4 separate regions of the Homo sapiens genome follow, and all the other regions are reported to be linked to region 2. The links are microRNA targets in miRTarBase. Many come from high-throughput screens and were not tested one by one. Region 2 holds a microRNA gene; each other region holds the end of a gene's coding sequence. Distances are between the middles of the regions.

Region 1 (5,069 bases), not on the chromosome of region 2:
GTCCAGAGGGGAGTGAGTGGTGTCGTGTTCTGGTCCCAAGGAGTGGCGTAAAAGGTGACCACCCATAGGGCAGGCGCCCCACCCTTGCCAGCTGCGGGTCATGCCATGTGGCACCAAGAGACTCTGCAGGCGGGCAGGGCGCATGTGTTCCTTGCTCTCGTTCTGTCACAATGCTGCTCACGCATCTCTCCCGTTCCTTCCAGAAACCAGTAAAGACAGCTCTGGCACCAAGCCAGCCAACAAGCGGCCCATGTCCTCTCCAGAAATGTAAGCAGGAAGCCCCTCTCGGGAACCTTCTGAGACTAGGGGTGGAAATAGCTGGGTTCAGCCTCTTGTCAAATGACTGGGGGCCCCTAACCGGCCCTGCACCAGCAGGGCCTCCAGTGGTGCAGGGCCCACACTAACTTTCTCTTTCCTTTTTCTGCCTTCCAAGGAAATCTGCTCCAAAGAAATCTAAGGCCGATGGTCAGTGAGAGGAAGCTGACTAGCCCCTGGATTCTTCTCCAGACCCCCCTGCTTCAGGAACACCCGCCAGGGCCCACCCCTCCCACCCCGTCCCAGCATTCGCACTTCACCCTCGCGAGCCGCTGTTCACTCCTCTCCCCTTTCTCTTTCTCTCTGTTTTTAAAATAATCTAAAGAAAGCACATTTTACCATTGCTGTTGGGAGGAAGCAGAGGCAGATGGGAAAGCAGAGAGAGGAGCGCGCTTCCTTTCCTCCCCGCTGCCGCCCACCCTGGGGAGAGACTTTTGCGGGGAGGGAAGGCGGAGCTGAGGACAGCCAGCTCCGCCCTCCCAAGGCTGTGCGTTCCTGAGGGCCAGGTCGGGGGCAGGCATGGAGGGGAGGAAAGGCGTCCCTCTTGGCCCTCCCCAGAGTGGCTTTCCTGGCACCCTGGCCTGGGTGTCTGGTTCTGTTTTCTTTTCTTCCCCTTGTGTTTCCAGTCACCTAACTTCCCTTCCTCAGGCTCCCCCGGCCCACCCTGCTCAGTGACCCCACAGGAAGCTTACACATTTTCTCAGAGGCCTTTGTGCTCCCACCTCTTCTACCCTCCCCCTCTTCTTTCCCATTTTAAAAAAGAAAAGAAGGAAAAAGAAAAAAGGGGCAAGGAGCCCCGCGGCGGCCTGGGCAGCGCCTGTGCAGACCTCCCTGCAGGCCGCACTGCCAACTGCTGCATTTGTTGTGTTTTTTAGGTTGCAATTGGTGAAGTTCACACTTTCATTGTAATTTTAGCGTGTGGGGTTTTGTCCCTTTTTTGTTGTTGTTAGCTGTGTACAGAATGTGTAATCTTTTTTCTTTTCTCTTTTTTTTGTTTTGTTTTGTTTTGTTTTTGTTTTTTTACTTTTTTCTTCTTGGCTAATTCTTGGCAGGGATCTTTCTGGAGGAAAAGCTGGGGCCAGCCAGGGCAGGAGAGGTGTGAAATCTGCCACGAGGGGCCTGCTGTTTGCCACCCAGCCCAACTTCCTGTTGCTGGCCCCTGCCCTCTGCCCTTTTGCCTGTCCTCAGGCCGCTGGAACAAAGGAAGGACAGCTCATTCCTCATGGGCGATCACTCCGCATCTATAGGGTCGAGCCTAGGGGAGCTTGAGGGAGGGCTGGGGCCTCCTTGTCCTGGATTTCCAGCTCTCCCCATGCCCCCTCCCTGAGCACCACCGGCACCGCCTCCCAAACAGGGCTGCTGGTTTCCGCAGCCACTGCTCCACCTCCCCCAAATCGTCATGGAAAGGGTGGAGAATGGAGGGGAACCAGGCGTCCTTGGAGGCAGCTTGGGAGGGTGACTGTGTAGTGTCACCCACAAGGGAGGCTAGGGCAATGGAGCAGGCCACCAGCAGCAGCTGTGCAGCATGGAACTCAGGCCAGGCTCCGAGGCTGGGGGATCTGCTTGGAGTTTTCTGCCCCCCACCCCAAACTTCTGTCGAGGAGCAAGGCTTGCCAGCAAGTCAGAAGGATTTGAACCGAGCAGCCAATCTTTCCAGCCCTCCCCTACCGACCTCTGCCTGGAGACGCAGCAGCCTGTGTCCTCCAGGGCCTCTGGTTTGTTGTATTATAGTATATTTCGCTGTGGAAAATGTCACGTTTAGTCACCTTGGAGCCCACTCACCTGGTCCTGTTGTTTTACCCCATCCCTTCTCTCGCGCGCCTATTGATTTGTTTCTGAGGAGAGTACACCGTTCACTATTGTAGAGTAACCCCTGTGACTCAATATTACCATAGTGCGATGTCGTTTTGTGCTATTTTGAACAATTAAAAGACTTTTTTTGAAATAACCACTAGGTGTCTCACTGTGTCCCGGCATCCTCTCAGGAAGCCTGAGCGGGAAGGCTGAGACCTGCCCGAGGCTCACGGGAGCCCCCTGGAGGGAGACCTGAGCTCTGGTGAAAGCGTAGAAGGCCCCAGAGTGAGGCCTCTGCTGTGGCCTCCGGTCTTTGGACCAAGTCGGACCAGGGTCCAGCAGGTTGCTTGGTAGCTGCCTTGCAGGGCAAGGGCCAAAGAGCCCCTTGGGCAGCTGCTGCTGACTTCCTGTGTCTGGGGCCCAGATCTCCCTCCCTCCCCTCCTGCACTAGAGGATAGGATGGGGCAAGGGCCTGGCAGGTCACCAGCGGCAGCCTCCTTGGGTGGGTTGGGGGGAGGTGGGCTGAGTCAAGTACACCACGGGTACTGCAGAGGTGGATCCCTTCCTCTGGCTTCCTCTTAAATGTGAGCCATGCCCCCAAGGGGAAGAAGCAAGAGCTTGTGATCCAGACTGACCACCTAGCAGCTGGGTCGGTAGGACAGCTGGGATCCCGTGGGCTGAATTTGTACCAGGAGGCCCAGAAAGCTCCGGGGCAAGGTGGCCGGAGCAGCACAGGCCTAGGCGGGTCTGAGGGGAGTGACACCCTGCTTCTGGGGCCTGGTGCTCCTGGCGCACCTGCATTCCCCGCCCCCTCCAAGCCCCTGCCGCCTGCCTTTGTTTCCCCTACACACCTCTACTGCCCAGCCTTCCTCTCAGAGCACCCAGGCACTCCGCTACCAGAAGCTCCTGGAGTAACCAAAGCCTCCGTGTCTCCACCTGTGGCATGGGTGTGTGTGCAAGGCCCTGTCGAATGCGACCTCTTCTGGGAAGCCTCTGTCCTGTGGGGTCTGCTGTGTCATGTGGGGGTGGGGGGAAGCAGACTGGCCAGGGCTTGACACCAGGAGCCATGGCTCTGTCTTACCCACCGCACCAACTGTGACCTGCCTTGGAGCCTAGCCTCGCAGAGGCCCAAGGAGAGGGGTGGGAAAGTGTCCTTCAGAGCAGAGCGGTAGGAGTCATGGCTGGGGCTGGTGGAGGCCAGGGGCCACATGGGGCTGGCCCCAGAACCGAGGGGCCTTGCGGATTTGCCATACCTTTGGCAAATGGCGTTGTGGGCGCTTCGCCTGGTGGGGGTGGTACAAGGCTTCTTCCTACCCCACTTCTGTAGCTGGCACCTGTGGGGCTACCCACCCTCCGCATTCCTTCAGCTCACTTGTCTCACCGCGGCTGCATCACACTCCACAAGGCAAGGGCCACATCAGTCATGCCTCTGGTGTTTATCTGAAAATACCGCGTTTCCGTCTGAGGGCACCACTCAGTCTGGGGAGGCAGGAGGGAGGCTGGACATGAATGTGAACATGACAGGCCTGTGAGCAGGGCAGGTAGATACAGCCCGGCTGGGCACAAAGCTCATCCCCTGAGCATGAGCCGAGGCCGAGGGTGGGTGGGAGCACACAGAGGATGCCTCCCCAGCTGCCAGGGCATCAGCCTCATTACCAAGCACCCCAAAGGGGAACTGTTTGGGGTTGGGTGGGTCAGCCTGCAGCAGGGACTGAGACAGCCACTGTGGCATCAAAGACCAGCAGTGCAGTACCCACGCCCAGAGGCTGGAACCCATTTTGTGCACTGTTGGCCTGGAAGGTAGGAACCACCTCAGCCCAGCTGCCTTGTAGCATCATCGGGTCAGTCATAGAGCTACAGACAGATCTGGGCAGCTGGAAAACAGGCCCAGAGAAGGGGGGTGTGGGCTGTTACCTGCAGTTACTGTCTGGCCTTAGAGCTGTGTCACTTGTGTAAAGAAGTCAGTGCCAAGGCCGAGCGCGGTGGCTCACACCTGTAATACCAACACTTTGGGAGGCCGAGGCAGGTGGATCACGAGGTCAAGAATTTGAGACCAGCCTGGCCAACATGGTGAAAAACCGTCTACTAAAAAAAAAAAAAAAAAAAAAAAAAAAATTAGCTAGGCATGGTGGCAGGCACCTGTAATCCCAGCTACTCCAGAGGCCGAGGCAGGAGAATTGCTTAAACCCGGGAAGCGGAGGTTATAGTGAGCCAAGATCATGCCACTGCACTCCAGCCTGGGCGACAGAGCAAGACCCCATCTTGGGAAAAAAAAAAAAAAAATTAGCGCCAATGGCTGCCCATTACTGACTGTTGAGGTAGTTGGTGACAAACTGATTCAAAAGAGAGGACTTGCTAGGCTGGGTGCGGTGGCTCACGCCTGTAATCCCAGCACTTTGGGAGGCTGACGCAGGAGGATCGCTTGAGCTTAGGAGTTCGAGACCAGCCTGGGCAACATTGCAAAACCCTGTCTCCACTAAAAATACAAAAATTAGCCAGGCATGGTGGCCCACACCTGTGGTCCCACCTACTCAGGAGGCTGAGGTGGGAGGATCGCTTGAGCCTGGCAGGTCAAGGCTGCAGTGAGCTGCCTGGGCGACAGGACACTGTCTCAAAAAACAAAGAAACAAACAACAACAACAACAACAAAAACAGAACTTGCCTCCTGTCTACCCTGTGTGGTGACAGGTCAGAGGGACCTCTGCATTCAGGCCCACTAGCTGTTCCCTGTCCTGCTGCACCCCTGCCCCACAGGCTTGGTAGGGCCAAGGCCCTCAGCCGCCCTGCCGGGGCCCCTGGTGTAGGGCGGGGTGGGTGGCAGCCCCGTTCCCCCTCATCCCAGACCCTCCGGCCATCCCAGCTTTTCCCACCAAGCAGGATCTTGAGACCAGAGCTCCCAGCAGGGGCCCTGGAGGGACTGGCCCATTCGAGTGGAGGGTCGCGGCAGGAACAAGTGCGGG
Region 2 (5,069 bases):
AGAGACGGGGTTTCACCACGTTAGCCAGGATGGTCTCGATCTCCTGACCTCATGATCCACCCACCTCGGCCTCCCAAAGTGCTGGGATTACAGGCATGAGCCACCGCGCCGGGCCGATCTTATTTTTTTGTGTCCACAGCATGGATTTCCCTGGTGATCCACCTGCCCCTGCCCTGGGAGCAGGTGCTCCCACCCCACCAGGCTCTCTCCCTCCTGGCTGAGGTGAGGTCTCTGGGCTCATGGAGCCAGGCCTTAGAGCCAACCTGGGCTGCTGGGTAGAGAGGATCTGCTTCAGCCAGCTCTTTCTGCAGTGATGACGAGGACGAGGAGGAGGAGGAGGAAGGAGAAGAGGAAGAAGAGGAAGCAGAAGAAGAGGAGGAGGAAGATGAGGAAGAGGAGGAAGAAGAGGAGGAGGAGGAGGAAGAAGAGCCTCAGCAGCGAGGGCAGGGAGAGAAGTCAGCCACGCCCTCACGGAAGATTCTGGACCCTAACACTGGGGTGAGTTTCTATCATCTGCCACAATCAGAGCCCTGGTCCTGAGAACGTGAAATCCCGAGGCACTTTCACAATGGGGTAGGGGGTGTCTCCTTAAGCACAGTAGCCACAAACATTTTTTTTTGATTGCATGATATTGAGTAAAAAAAGGAAAATGGTCCCAGTGTAATGATAGTTACCTATATTTCTTTTTTTTTTTTTTGAGATGGAGTCTCACTCTTGTCACCCAGGCTGGAGTGCAGTGGTGTGATCTCGGCTCACTGCAACCTCTGCCTCCCGGGTTCAAGTGATTCTTATGCCTCAGCCTCCCAAACAGCTGGGATTACAGATGCTTGCCACCACGCCTGGCTAATTTTTGTATCTTTAGTAGAGCCGGGGTTTCGCCATATTGGCCAGGCTGGTCTTGAACTTCTGACCTCAGGTGATCCACCCTCCTCGACCTCCCAAAGTGCTGGGATTACAGGCATTGAGCCACCGGGCCCAGCCATAGTTACCTATATTTCTATTTACCCCAATATAAATGTCTATTTACAGGTAGCAGTGCTGCTGCATTATGTATATTATAAGATATGCATAAGGGTTTCTGAAAGAATAAACAAATAAGCATAAATAGAAATTCTGATTTTTTTTTTCCCCACCCACCAGAGGATTGTCTTGGTGACCCTTAGGAACCACTCCCCCATTCCTGGGATGGTGGCTGGGCCATGACCTGGCTTGGGCACTTGGTGTCCCTTGTCTGGCCCGGGGCTGCATCAGGGCTGCCACACCTCCAGTTCATTCATTTGCATTCCCTGTCAGGTTCCTAAGTAAAGCTCCTGGAGAACTTGGCTCTGGACAAGGACTCCCCATGCTTACGCTGAATTGGGCTGCTTCTCTGGTTTATGGAATCAATTAAACAAATGGCTAGGTTCGCCTCAATTCAGTTTTTCCTCTGGGCACCTCTGGTGCTAGCAGGGCTTACCCAGGCTGGACTGTAGTTCTACGGGGACCCACTTTAGCCCCCATGTGCCTCCGTAGTCATTTCTGGGGCACTGCATGTCATGACGAGGATCCACTTGGCCGTAGCAGGTTTTTTGAGTCCCAGGGAGGTAGCTTCCCCCTCACCCCAAAGGCTCCTGGACCAAGAGCCATCCAGGGCCAGCATCTCTGGGTGATATTGATAGATGGGAAATGCAGCTGAGTGGGAGGAAGAATTCTAGACTTTGAGCCTAGATGGGCTGGAGTGAAGGGTGGATGTGCTGGGTGTGGGGATGGGCACAGCTGTGTCGGGGAGTCTGGGGTCCGGAATTCTCCAGAGCCTCTGTGCCCCTACTTCCCAGGAGCCAGCTCCCGTGCTGTCCTCCCCACCTCCTGCAGACGTCTCCACCTTCCTGGCTTTTCCCTCTCCAGAGAAGCTGCTGCGCCTAGGGCCCAAGAGCTCCGTGCTGATAGCCCAGCAGGTAATAACCACCCCTCGACCCCCACGCTGTACGTGCTGTGGCTTCTGGAGCTGTTAGAGAAAAGGGACGAACAGCTCAGAGACCTGGGGGTGCGACGCTGTCAGCTGGGGGCAGGGAGGCTTGGCCTGCCACTGTTACAACACGCGCAAATGTCCAGGGTATTTATAAGCCTCCAGGGGTTGCAAATGTTCCCTCCCCACTCAGCCTACAGAAAGTACAGCCCGCCAGTTCCCATGCTGACTGGGGTTAGGGAATTTCCTTAAGAGCCTTGCATGTGCCCACCCCCTCCTTGGCTTCTCTCTGCGTGTTCCGTCAGCCCAGCTGCTTCGAGAACAACTCTGTTGCCCAGGGCTCCTTTGGAAGTGACGTGCCTATTGCAGGATGGGTGCCCTCACTCCAGCCTCACTTGTTGGTTGGCTCATTCATTCATTCATAGATGATCTTCGGGGCATCCATTTTCTGCCAGGCACTGCATTTGGGCATGATTTTATTTAACCCTCTTGGCAACATGAAATGTAGACTCTGCTGCCCTTACTTTATTTTATTATTTATTTATTTATTTATTTTTTTGAGATGGAGTCTCACTCTGTCGCCCAGGCTGGAGTGCAGTGGCACGATCTCGGCTCACTGCAGACTCTGCCTCCTGGGTTCAAGCAATTCTCCTGCCTCAGCCTCCCGCGCCCAGCTAATTTTTGTATTTTTTAGTAGAGACGAGGTTTCACCACGTTGGCCAGGCTGGTCTCAAACTCCTGACCTCATGATCCACCCACCTCGGCCTCCCAAAGTGCTAGGGTTACAGGCATGAGCCACCGTGCCCGGCCAGCCCTTATTTTGTAGATAAGAAAGCGGAGGCTCGGAGGTTACAGAGAAATAAAATGGGCCCACTCTCAGAGTTGGCTTAACATTTCGGCCAATTGCTTTGTTAGGTTTTGCCTGTATTCTTTGTTTCTTTTAACATGATAAATCAGATGTTGTAAGCCTTTCTGTGGCCTATCACTTTGGTGTAGCACCATTCATCACTTTCTTGTGCCCATAAAACTCTTCTCAGGATTTTTATTGCAATGTGTGGATGTAGCACTTAAAAGCCAGGCACTGTTTCTGACGTTTTTTCCACTTTTCCCTGTTGTGAGGTTGAGGTAAACGTTTCTGCATGTGAGTATTGTCTACATGCTAGATTATTTCTTCAAGTTCAATTACAAGATGGGGACCACTGGATCCCTGAAATGATTTTTTTTTTTTTTTTTCTGAGACAATGTTTTGCTTTGTGACTCCGGCTGGAGTGCAGTGGTGCAATCATGGCTCAGTGCAACCTCGACCTCCTGGGCTCAAGCAGTCCTCCTGCCTCAGCCTCCCAAGTAGCTGAGACTATAGGCACACACCACCAACCTTGGCTAATTTTTTTCCTTTTTGTTGACATGGGGTCTTGCTATGTTGCCTAGGCTGGTCTCAGACTTTTCGCCTCAAGCCATCCTCCCACCTCAGCCTCCCAAAGTGCTGGGGTTACAGGCATGAGCCGCCACACCCGGCTGGGATGATTTTTCATCCTTGTTCATTCACTCATTCATTCCCTCTCTATGCTGCATATGTGCTTGCTGCAGGCCAAATCCAAGCCAGACTCTGAAGGGACAGCATGGGGTAAGGCAGGACCTGTTCTTGCCCGCCAGGGGCCTTTGTACTGCCCAGGCCTCTCCTAGCTAGCGTCAGAGCCCAGGTACCTCTCCACCACGTGCCACAGGCCAACCATTGTCTCTTTTGTCCTCAGACTGACACGTCTGACCCCGAGAAGGTGGTCTCTGCCTTCCTAAAGGTGTCATCTGTGTTCAAGGACGAAGCTACTGTGAGGATGGCAGTGCAGGATGCAGTAGGTAATGTGGGCTGGGTGAGACCTGGGTGCCCTCTGTCCCTTGATGCTCGTGGGCCCCAGGTATCCTTCGTGGTTGCCGTAACTCGTCAGCCCCAGCGCTCTCATGGGAACTGCTCTTTGGCCACCTGAGTTTTTCCTCCGTCAGGGTCCTGCCGTGGAGCCAGCTGGCTGCTCTTCTCCCTGTTTTTCACCACTGAGAAACTGAGGCCTTTCCCAAATCCACACAGCCATGTACAGTTAGAACCCATAGCCCGCTCTAGGAAGTCCAGATAGTCACATCTGCAAGCCCAATGGACGCAGGTCTATCGGGAGGAGGGATGGTGAGAGCCAAGCCCTTGTCCACACCTTGGAGCTTCTGTGCTCACGTCCACTCTACCTGGAGGTTCCTTGCACAGAGGACACCTTTCCCCATAACATTATGGGGGCTTCCTTGGAGCACCAGCCCATATCCCTCCAGCCCTATCACAACCCTCTCCCCACCCTGTCTGTTTCCTCCATTCCAGCACCTGTCACCTTCCACCCTGTTTCCATGTGCTTGACTGAGCCTCCACATCTAACGAAACCTGAGCCAGTTCCGGTTAGGCAGAGGGGAGGAAGGGCCCTGAGGCGAGGGGGACGGTTCCTGGAAAAGATAGAAAGGGGTGGAAGGACATGTGGTGCCTCTTCCCGGCGTGGCGTCGAAGCGGGGAGGGCGGCTCAGTGGGAAATGAGGCTCGGAAGGAGGTGGGGGCCAGACACAAGCCTGCTCCCTGAGGGCCCGCCTGTGGGCATTTTTGGGAACAAGTTGCCCTAGTTCTGTTTCCCAGGAAGCCTAGCACAGTCCCTGCACATCCCCTCACCCTGCCAAAATAACCTGAATCCTCCCCAGTGGTAGCCTGCCTCAGGAAATCTCCATTCCCACGGTGTGAGGTGGGCACAGTGGGTGTCATCCCCATGCCCATTTTATACCTGAGGCCAGGATGGGCAAGGGCCAGAGTGTCACAGCTGGCAGATGGACTGAGCCCATCCCCTGATGCCAACTGCCACTCCCTCTGGTTCCTGTGTCTCTGCCGTCCCTCTCGTGTTCGCCTCTTCGTCAGGGCGAGGAGGCAGGCGAGCCTGTGTCTGCGCGGTGTTGGGGGAACCCTGGGTGCCTTGGCCCAGCCCTCTGCCATAGCCAGCAGCCTGCCCCTGCTGCTTCTGCCCTACAGATGCCCTGATGCAGAAGGCTTTCAACTCCTCGTCCTTCAACTCCAACACCTTCCTCACCAGGCTGCTCGTGCACATGGGTC
Region 3 (5,069 bases), 12 Mb from region 2:
GCGCAGTGGCTCACGCCTGTAACCCCAGCACTTTGGGAGGCCAGGCGGGCAGATCACTTGAGGTCTGGAGTTCAAGACCAGCCTGGCCAACATGGTGAAACCCCATCTGTACTAAAAATAAAAAAATTAGGCCAGGCGCGATGGCTCATGCCTGTAATCCCAACACTTTGGGAGGCCAAGGTGGGCGGATCACGAGGTCAGGAGTTCGAGACTAGCCTGGCCAACATGGTAAAACCCCATCTCTACTAAAAATACAAAAATTAGCTGGGCGTGGTGGCGTGCACCTGTAATCCCAGCTACTTAGGAGACTGAGGCAGGAGAATCACTTGAACCTGTGAGGCAGAGGCTGCAATGAGCCGAGAACATGCCACTGCACTCCAGCCTGGGCGACAGGGCAAGACCCCGGTCTCAAACCCCAAAAAACAAAAATTAGCCAGGCGTGGTGGCAGGCGCCTATAGTCCCAGCTACTTGGGAGACTGAGACAGGAGAATCACTTGAACCTGTGAGGCAGAGGCTGCAATGAGCCGAGAACATGCCACTGCACTCCAGCGTGGGCGATAGGGTGAGACTCCGGTCTCAAACCCCAAAAAACAAAAATTAGCCAGGCGTGGTGGCAGGCGCCTGTAGTCCCAGCTACTTGGGAGACTGAGACAGGAGAATTGCTTGAATCCGAGAGGCAGAGGCTGCAGTGAGCCAAGATAGCGCTGCTGCACTCCAGCCTGGGCGAGAGAGCGAGACTTCCTCTCAAAAAAAAAGAAAATTAAAAGCCTAAGTGAATGGAAAGATCTCATGTTCACGGATTGGAATACTTAATATTGTTAAAATGGTAATGCTACTCAGTTGATTTATAGATCCCACACAATTCTTATCAAAATCTCAGCTGTCTTTGTTGTTGTTGCAGAAATTAGCAAGCTGGTCCTAAAAATAATATGGAAATGTAAAGAACCCAGAATACCTCAGATAATCTTGAAAAAGAAAAGCAAACCTGGAAGACTTACACTTTTCAATTTCAAAACTTAAAACTACAAAAGTGGCCAGGTGCGGTGGCTCACACCTGTAATCCCAGCACTTTGAGAGGCCGAGGCAGACAGATCACTTGAGGTCAGGAGTTCAGGACCAGCGTGGCCAACATGGTGAAACCCCATCTCTACTAAAAATACAAAAATTAGCCAGGTGTGGTGGCACACGCCTGTAATCCCAGCTGCTCAGGAGGCTGAGGCAGGAGAATTGCTGGAACCCAGGAGAGAGGTTGCAGTGAGCTGAGATTGCACCACTGCCCTCCAGCCTGGGCGACAGAGCAAGACTCTCTCCAAAAAAAAAAAAAAAAAAAAGCCGTACAAAATTATAATAATCAAGATATTGTGGTACTGGCATCAGGATAGACATACAGATCAATGGACTAGAATTGACCATCTAGAAATAAACTGTTAGATTTACTGTATAGTCAATTTATTTTGACAAGAGTGCCAAGTCGATTCAATGAGGAAAAGAATATTCTTTTTAATAAATGGTGCTAGAGGCTGGGTGCAGTGGCTCACGCCTGTAATCCTAGCACTTTGGGAGGCTGAGGTGGGCCGATTTCTTGAGGCCAGGAGTTTGAGACCAGCCTAGCCAACATGGTGAAACCCTGTACTAAGAATACAAAATAATTAGCCAGGTGTGATGGCACGTGCCTGTAATCCCATCTATTCGGGAAGCTGAGGCAGGAGAATTGCTTGAACCTCGGAGTTGGAGGTTGCAGTGAGCCGAGATTTCACCACTGCATATCAGCCTGGGTGACAGAGTGAGACTCTGTCTCAAAAATAAATAAATAAATAAGTCGTGCTAGAGCACTCTTTATTGGTGTTCTGCTTCTGAGATTTTTTTTTTAATTTTTAGAGACAGGGTCTCATTCTGTCACCCAAGCTGGAGTGTGGCGACGCCATCATAGCTCACTACAGCCTCAAACTCCTGGGCTCAAGCGATCCTCTTGCCTCAGCCACTTGAGTAGCTGAGATTACAGGTGTGCACTGCCACGTCCAGCTAATTTTAAAAATTTTTTGTAGAGACGGGGTCTATGTTGCCCAGGCTGGTCTTGAACTCCTGGCCTCAAGTGATCCTCCCGTCTCAGCCTCCCCAAGTGCTGGGATTATACAGCTGTGAGCCACTGCGTCCAGCCCTAAGATGATTCATACCTATCGGGGAAAACAGTGCCACTGGAGAGAACAGGCTGGCCTCTGCACTCTGGATTGGTGACAGGAGTTATCCAGGCCTGTCTGAAGGCAATAGCAGGTGTGTCCATGGGACTTCTTCCAGGACGGGTGGGTCTTGAGTTACAGACCTGAAAAGGTGCATAGGGTTCTGGGAACAGAGTGGGTCACGGGTGAGCCCAGGCCTTGGGGTGAGGCATACCTGGCTCTGTTTGGCTGAGTAGCTTCAGGCAGATCCCTTTTCCTTTCTGAGCCTCTGCTGCTGACCAGGGTGACGCTATTCCATGCTGGTCCACAGTGAGGAGACGGGAGGGAATGGTGGCCAGCACACTTGGCATGGGGCCTGGCCTGTGGCGTGGGCCCACCCCTGGCTGCTTTTGGTTTTCCTTGACCGGCCGCCCTGCCCCGGGCAGACAGATGCAGCTGGGGCCTTCCGGTGGCTGGAACCCTCAGAGCGACGGCTGCAGGTGCTGCAGGAGGGCGTCTTGTGCAGGACCTTGGCGGGGTGCTGGCCCCTGAGGCTCCTTGCCACCCCGGGTAGCCTGGCGGAGCTGCCTGTCACCCATCCTGCCGGAGTGAGGTGAGGGTGATGGGGGGGATGCCAGTCCAGGTGGTGGGCACTGTGGCAGGGCTGCCAGTCAGGCCCTCTTCTCTTCCCACTCCTCCAGGCCTCCCATCCCTGGACCGCCTTATGTGGCCTCCCCTGACCTCTGGTCCCACTGGGAAGACTCAGCCCTGCCCCCACCAAGCCTGAGGCCTGTGCAGCCCACCTGGGAGGGCTCCTCAGAGGCAGGCCTGGACTGGGCTGGGGCCAGCTTCTCCCCAGGGACTCCGATGTGGGCGGCCTTGGATGAGCAGATGCTGCAGGAGGGCATCCAGGCCTCGCTTCTTGACGGGCCAGCCCAGGAACCCCAGAGCGCACCATGGCTGTCCAAGTCCTCTGTCTCCTCTCTGCGGTAAGGTGGGGTGGGCAGAGGTGGGGTCCCCTGGTATAGGGGCCGGGGTGGCCCTGACACTCCCCACTTCTCCCCCCACCCCCAACAGGCTGCAGCAGCTGGAGCGCATGGGCTTCCCTACGGAGCAGGCGGTGGTGGCACTGGCAGCCACAGGCCGTGTGGAGGGTGCCGTGTCACTGTTGGTTGGAGGACAAGTGGGCACTGAGACCCTGGTGACCCATGGAAAGGGTGGGCCTGCCCACTCCGAGGGTCCTGGGCCTCCCTAGCCCAGGCAGAGAGTGGGGCACAGGCAGGCCCTTGGGTGCTAAGGGCTGGGCTGCATGTGGGTAGCCCGAGCTCCTACTCTGTCTAAAGAGGGCCACAGTGGGGAGCAGGGGCACCTCTGGAGGCAGGAGAGGCCCCCCAGCATGCTGCCCTAGTACGTGTTTAGAATAAAAACCAGTTTGTTTTTCAACCTGGACCTCCTTGGAGGCAGCAGTTGTGTTTGACTCTTCTGTGTTGGCATCAGGGGGATGAATGAATGAGTGAGCACCAAATGAATGACCAGTTGTGGGAGAGCTGTTCCCTGATGTCCAGAGACACAGGCTTCCTGGCCCTGCACCTTGCAGCCTATACCTCCAGGAGGCTCTGTCCTCCAGCACAGAGCATTCTCCACCGCCCATTTCTAGCCCTCTCCGTCGTAGCCTCATTCCCAGCTGCCCCCATCTAAGCACACACTGAGACCAAGCTGCGGGGAATCAGGTAGGGGCCTTTATTGGCCAGCACACATCTACCTCCTGGCATCTGTCACAAGCATTTGCAGGAGTAGGCGGCCCCTTCCTCTCCATGTCCCCATCCCCAACCTGAGATGCGGGAGGGCCTGGGGGCTCAGAGGGAAGAACTGAGGCAAGAAGCCCCCGGTGATCCAGTCAGAGGATTGGGCAGCCTGACCTCGGGGTGGGGAGCCCAGCACTGGACAACAAGGAGGGAGGGGCACAGGAGGGCTCCCCGAGGTTTGGTCGGGGAGGGGGAGGAAGACTGCCCCCTGCCCTGTCATCTCTGCATGTGCCGAGCCCCAGCTCCTGACTCCCTCAGTGCCTTTGGGCCTGGATGCTCAGACAGCAGATGAGACGAAGCCTTGTACCTCTATCCCTCCTTGAAGGCCTGCCTCCCCCCACTTCACAGAGGGAAACTGAGGCCCAAGCCTCTCCTCTCAGCCCTTGCTCAGCCTCAGACATGTGCATGGTGCCAGGACTGAGACCTGCTTACCCCTAAGGCCTAGATGGCAGAAGGGACCCTGAGGACATTAATAAATATGGACGGGCGGTCCCTGGAGGCAGCTGGCCGAGTCCAGGTAGGAGGGGAAGCCTGGCCTGGTCTGCCTCAGGGGCCGCCACCACCCTCAGCCTCTCTCGTCCCGGCTCCTGGGGGCCACGATCCGGTAGTTGGTTGCATGTCCGCCCCTCTTGCCCCGAAGGAGGCTGGGGGTGCCTGTGCCGGCAGGGCCCGCCCCAGACCCCAGCTCTGGTTCTGCCGGAGGGAAGAAGGAGAGAGGCCACATTAGAGGGGTTCATGTGAGGTGCCCACCTCCCCTTGGCCCTCTAGGGGGTGGCAGAACCGGGCACGCTCTGCCAGGTATAATCCACCCTGGTATCTGGCTGCAGAGCTGTGGGAAAGGGGGTCTGCAGATTGGTTGGTGCCTCACGCCAGGACTTACCAGCCCCCCAGCCCAAGGAGAGCACTCAGGGCCTCTGCTTCCTGCTTTGTCAGGTGGGGATAACCACACCCACCTCCTTTAGGAAGTGTTTAGATGCAGTGAATGCTTCATAGAAAGGCTGCTTCTTTTTCTATTCATTTTGGGGTGGAGGTGTGCCCTGAGTCATCCCCATTTGGTAGCTGGGTAAACTGAGGCCAGGGAACAGACATGGGCTAGGCCACCAGTTG
Region 4 (5,069 bases), not on the chromosome of region 2:
GCATTTCACTGTCCTGCCAGTGGCATTGGCAGTGACTTTCTGATCCCAGGATCCTGTCTTTGGGTGGCAGCTTCACCATTGTGTCCTCATGCTCAGCCTTTCCAGTGGTGGCCTCCTGGCTTCTGTCTTTCTGACTGTGAGAGGTAGTAACTCCCCTGGCAGTTCTATGGTGTTCTAGGAGTCATTCCTAATACCCAGCCCAGGGACCAGCATTTTCTTCAACAGCAAGAGTGGTTTCTGTTTCTAAACTTAGACTGATTCATTTAGTCTCTAGAAGTGGTCATGCCTCCTCCCACTATAGGGTTGTTTTACTTGCTATCCCTCTTGCCTAGGTTAATACCCTTGCCATCCCTTAATCCCCAGCCCCATCTCTCGATTAACTCCTTTTATGTCTTTTCCATCTCAGTTCAAACATTTTCTCTGATCCTTAAGACTGGATCAGCTTTGCTTGTTAAACAGGGATCTCACCCTGTATGTTTCTTTTAGTGCATCATCGTCTGTAATTATGTACTTGTGTGACTCTAGAATCTGAGCTTCAGGGACTTGATTATCCTGCTCCATGCTGTGTTCCATCGCTTAGAAAAGGCCCCTATAGAGTTGGCGCTTAACAGGCATGTGTTGAAAGAATGAATGGAATGGAGGAGGCCTGATTGGAGGCTCTGAGGACAAAATCCACGTTTTTAAATATGGCTGGTAAGCCCTGTGACACCTCTTCTCGGCGTTTTCTCCCAGCCACATCTTCCCCTGACTCTTGGCCAGTCCGAACACGCTGTGTGCTCTCTGGCCTCCAGGCCTCTACATCTGCTATTTCTGCTGCTTGGCTGTCTCTTCACTCTTAGCCTGGTTCTTACTCATCTTGCAGGTTTCAGTCAGGACGTTTTCTCTTCTAGGGAAACCTTTACTTCAGACAATTCTATACAGGACAAATGTTGGCTGGGTGCGGTGTCTCACGCCTGTAATCCCAGCACTTTCAGAGGCTGAGGCAGGTGGATCACCTGAGGTCAGGAGTTCGAGACCAGCCTGGCCAACATGCTGAAACCCCATCTCCACTAAAAATACAAAAATTAGCCGGGCGTGGTGGCACGTGCCTGTAATCCCAGCTACTTGGAAGGCTCAGGCACATGAATCGCTTGAATCCGGGAGGTGGAGGTTGCAGTGAGCCAAGATCATGCCACTGCACTCCAGCCTGGGCAACAGAGTGAGACTCTGTCTCAAAAAAAAATTGTTAAATATATGATTGTAAACATTGCCTACTGTTACTTATCTGTACCTTCCATTGCAAGTGCACTGTCTTGTTCAAGGCAGCCTATGCAGAGGGCCTTGCATGGGGCCCAGCTCTAATGCCCTCCGTATTTGTTGAAGTGGAATGAATCAATGTCCCCTAGTCAACCAGCCTCAGTCCGGGCATCTCTGCACACTTTCCAGGAGCCCAAAAACAGTGAAGAATTGTAATTTGAGGGCTGCTTGATCAGGAAAGGAAGCTGGGGGAGGTTTGTTCAGCTCCAGCCCCTGGCTGTCCCTGGGCCACCAGGCAGGAGGCCTTGAAGCAGATCCTGTGGGGGATGGGCAGGGAAACAGTTTCTTCCTCTCCTCCCTCCTGGAGAGTGGGGGGATGGGGCCAGGAGAGGGAAGGTTCCTTCAAGGAGGCTCCCTGGCACAGTGCCTGCTTTGAGGAACGGAGTGGAGAGTATGGTGAATGCAGGCTTTCTCCTGGCCCCTGGCCTCCAGCTCTGTGAGAGGGAGGGAAACCGCTGGCAAAGACGGGAAAGAGGGATGGGAGGGAGGGGAGAGTCTGCTTGCTTTGGGAGACAAGGAGAGGGGTTGAACTGGCTCTGAAAGACAGGATTCCCAAGAGCCTACCAGGTCCCAACTCCAGATCAGCTCTGGAAATATCCTCAAATCACTGAGTCAGAGTCAATATACTGGGAACGTTTAACTCTCAGGATCAGATCATCCTAGCATCACCAGCTGGAAAATCCTTCAGAGAGTTGTATCTGGGGTCTGCAGGGTATTGGACCTGAAGTCCAGGGACCTTGACCCTATTCTGCCTGCAGGCCCAGTCTCCAGTGGGGGCTAACTTGGAGAAGTCAGCTCCCTGGATCCCGCTTTTTCAACAGCTGGAAGAAATGGCATTTTCCCAGAACCCAAGAATATTTTGCATCCCATCCACAGCGCGCGCTTACAGTAACAGAAAGACGAGGAAGCTGGCAAACCACCTCTCTTTCCCACAGGTCTGTAATCTCCCTGAGGGCAGGGTTCAGCTCACACATCTTATACTCTGGTCTCAAACCTGGCTGCCCATCAGAATTGCTTGAGGATGATTAACTAAAATGTTTCACTTCCTCTAACAGTGATTCTGATTTATTGGAACTGTGTTAGGACTTAAAACCCGTTTTAACAGTGTGCTGATTGTGATGCAAAGGGACCGGCACAACGTAGTAGGTGCTAAGTGTTGCCTGCAGGGGTGGGAAATGTATTTAGCAAGGTAAACAAATGGAGTGTAGGGGAAGTGGGATTGAAATACGGTCTGGAGCTGGGTAACTGTGCATCTAACACTTTGAAAGGAAATAGTGCACCAGTTTTAGCAATACAAAAGATAAATATTTATTCAGAACAAAACTTTTAACAATCAATTTTACATTCTAAGCCACAAGGAAATAGCAAAACATATAGCAAAGGAAAAGCAAACACTAAAAGAAAAGCAGTGTACTGTCTTTTCTACTGGATAACACTTAGTTGGCCCATGACCTCTCGCTTGGCCTATCTCCCAAGTACATTTTAGAGTTAACAGCTCACTCATAATTTTGGGTTAAAATCCATCTTTCTCCTGAGAATCAGGAGTTGCACATGAGCTCCAGCTAGCTGCTTCTCTAGGGTTCGTAGCTATTGAGGCTAAGGTGCAAATGTAAACCTTTGGTAGGTTTCTTTACACAGGGGCACCCCCATTTCTCACTGGTGGCAATGAATGGGGAAGGGGTAGGGCCTCCAAAGGACCTGGCACACTGTAATCCAGAAGTGGTGCCCCAGGGAGCAACGAATGCACCCTGGAGTGTGGTCCTTGGTCCGTTCCGTATCTCCCAAGTATTCAGAAGCCCCTCCTTAAAAACCTTCTCTTTCTGCTCCCTCCTCCAGGTGATTTCTCAGCATTCCTCTGGGCTGATCATTCTGGAGAGATCAGACTTTCTGGGCCCTCAAGTGTTGAGGAAATTGTTGTGAAGTGTGAGAGGTAGTGGAATGAGCACCGGGCTTGGGGTCAGGGGACTCTACTATAGGCTGGCTCTGGCACCAGACAGCTATGTGATTTTCACCCAGTCATTTAACCTCTTTGGGCCTGTTTCATCTGCTGGAAAACCAGGGAATTGGTCCAAACCAACTCTCAGGTTCTTTCCAGCAGGAATATTCTAGATTCCATGATTCTATAAAAAATGGCTTCTGAGCCACCAAAAGAGCTGTCATGAAGTCCATGCATCTTTGTGCCATAAGAGAGGCCCTTGGCCACCATTCAGAGCTTATTGATTCAGATTATATACACTTCTAACAACACTGGTTTCACAAATTCTCAGACCACGTAGATTAAAAGCAGCAAATTAAATGAGGGAGGGGAAGAGCTGCAAAAGGTAGACACTCTGATAGAAGCCACAGTCAACAATGTTTTCAATTCAGCAAACACTGATGGAGTGCCTACCACGTGTTGGGCCCCGTACCTAGTGCTGGGGCATAAAGATGAGCAAGGCAGCCCAAAGGGTGAAAATCCAGGGGAAGAAAAGGTATGGGGCGGGGAGGGCGGGAGGGGGGCAAGGAGAGAGAGAAAAAGTACAAGAAACAAAACAAATACCCAATAGAAAAACGAAAATAAAATTTTAAAAGGGAGGGGCAACACATCTGCACGCTACAGTTCTCCGCAGTCGTTATTGGTGACAGAGTCACCAATTCAGAACAGGCTGAAATGGAGTAAACTCGGTTTAAGAAGGCATAGAGAGATGTCTCTTGTAGGTTTTAAAAAGATCTCCTTCAAAAACGATAAAAAATGGTTTAAAAAAAAGTTTTGGCACTTAAGAGGGATAAGCTGGCTGTGTGTTCACCCTGGCAGGCAGGCGGGTGTTTAGTGCCCGGCCACGCCGGTTAGCTGAGCTGCCACGGAATTGTGCACTGCTTTGGGACACTGGGCAAAGGCGTGTCCTCGCTTGCCACAGAGGTTGCACACGATGCCCTTCCGGCAGTAAGGGCTCAGGTGCCCCTCCTCCCCGCACCTGAAGCACCTGTCCTGCGTGCAGCTGCCGCTCATGTGGGTCCGGGAACCACATTTAAAGCATGTCTTGGGCTGCCCCTTGTACCAGCTGTAGCCCCTCTCGGCCCCCAGGAAGAAGGCCCCTGGCAAGTGCCTGACCCCGCCCTCCCCCTGGCGCAGCTCGATCTCGCATTTGTACTCCCCGGTCCAGATCCCAAACCTGTCGGTCACTTTCACCGGCACGGCCAGCACGTCGCAGTGGCGCTTGAGCCAAGTCACAATGTCCTCCACGTCCACCGTCTCGTTCCGGAAGAGGATGAAGAGCGTCTTCAAGCTGGACTTGCTCCGCCCCAGCACCACAAAGTTCTCCCAGCAGTCCTCCTGCTCCCGCTTCTCCTCGTAGACGCGTAGGAACAGGGCCAGCTTCTCCGCTGAGCGGAAGCTCACGTCGAATTCGCGGCTGCCCGGGATCTGGATGACCGCGTAGATGTCGCTCGGGTCCATGCCGATGGAGCGCAGGATAAGCGCTCCTACCACGAAGTCCCGGGTCGGGCAGGCGCCCTCGTCTCCCTGGAAACAGATGCGGACGAGGAAGCGACCCTTGCCCGGGCCTGCCGCCGCCGCCGGCTCATCCTGGAGGGGCCGCTCGGCCGCGTCCTCGGCCTCGCCGGGCCTGGCCGGGGTCGCCATGGCGGCCGCCGCCGCCTCGGCCTTCTTCCTCCTGCCCGCCTCCGCAGCGCCCTTCTTTTTGCGGGGGTCCACCGCCTCGCCGGCCGGATCTCTCCGACGGCCCTTCGGATCCCCGCGGCCAGCCGGTGGGAAGTCGCCGAGGTCCGGCGCC

What was found. Region 2 holds the annotated microRNA hsa-miR-6889-5p (UCGGGGAGUCUGGGGUCCGGAAU, at 1,761-1,783, shown strand). A microRNA usually pairs through its seed, bases 2 to 8, with sites in the 3' UTR of a target mRNA and lowers its output. Matches are read on the target gene's strand: a 7mer-m8 pairs with bases 2 to 8, a 7mer-A1 pairs with bases 2 to 7 and ends in A, and an 8mer does both.
Region 1: the mRNA of HCFC1 is a reported target of hsa-miR-6889-5p. Seed matches in the 3' UTR shown: 7mer-m8 at 717-723.
Region 3: miRTarBase lists EMID1 as a target of hsa-miR-6889-5p. Seed matches in the 3' UTR shown: 8mer at 4,145-4,152.
Region 4: the mRNA of ZCCHC3 is a reported target of hsa-miR-6889-5p. Seed matches in the 3' UTR shown: 7mer-m8 at 3,776-3,782.

Annotation. Positions count from the first base shown.
Region 1 is chrX:153,944,751-153,949,819 of GRCh38, reverse strand. HCFC1 (host cell factor C1) reads left to right here. Exons shown (of 26, transcript NM_005334.3): 25 at 204-267; 26 at 434-2,263. The coding sequence ends at 473. Among named protein-coding and RNA genes, the nearest start is that of RENBP, 2.6 kb to the right of the region's middle. RefSeq lists enhancers at 1,556-2,095, 4,262-5,025 and a silencer at 4,935-4,994.
Region 2 is chr22:41,249,737-41,254,805 of GRCh38, reverse strand. It overlaps MIR6889 (microRNA 6889), which reads left to right and starts at 1,756; the gene lies at 1,756-1,814. It overlaps RANGAP1 (Ran GTPase activating protein 1), which reads left to right. Exons shown (of 16, transcript NM_002883.4): 11 at 312-498; 12 at 1,815-1,934; 13 at 3,697-3,799; 14 at 4,989-5,069.
Region 3 is chr22:29,258,403-29,263,471 of GRCh38, reverse strand. It overlaps EMID1 (EMI domain containing 1), which reads right to left. Exons shown (of 15, transcript NM_133455.4): 15 at 3,875-4,655. The coding sequence ends at 4,528. It overlaps RHBDD3 (rhomboid domain containing 3), which reads left to right. Exons shown (of 7, transcript NM_012265.3): 5 at 2,608-2,770; 6 at 2,859-3,146; 7 at 3,235-3,600. The coding sequence ends at 3,412. Among named protein-coding and RNA genes, the nearest start is that of RHBDD3, 7.0 kb to the left of the region's middle. RefSeq lists enhancers at 2,168-3,021, 3,022-3,876.
Region 4 is chr20:297,832-302,900 of GRCh38, reverse strand. It overlaps ZCCHC3 (zinc finger CCHC-type containing 3), which reads right to left. Exons shown (of 1, transcript NM_033089.7): 1 at 2,580-5,069. The coding sequence ends at 4,103. Among named protein-coding and RNA genes, the nearest start is that of ZCCHC3, 2.8 kb to the right of the region's middle. RefSeq lists silencers at 1,402-1,696, 4,888-4,957.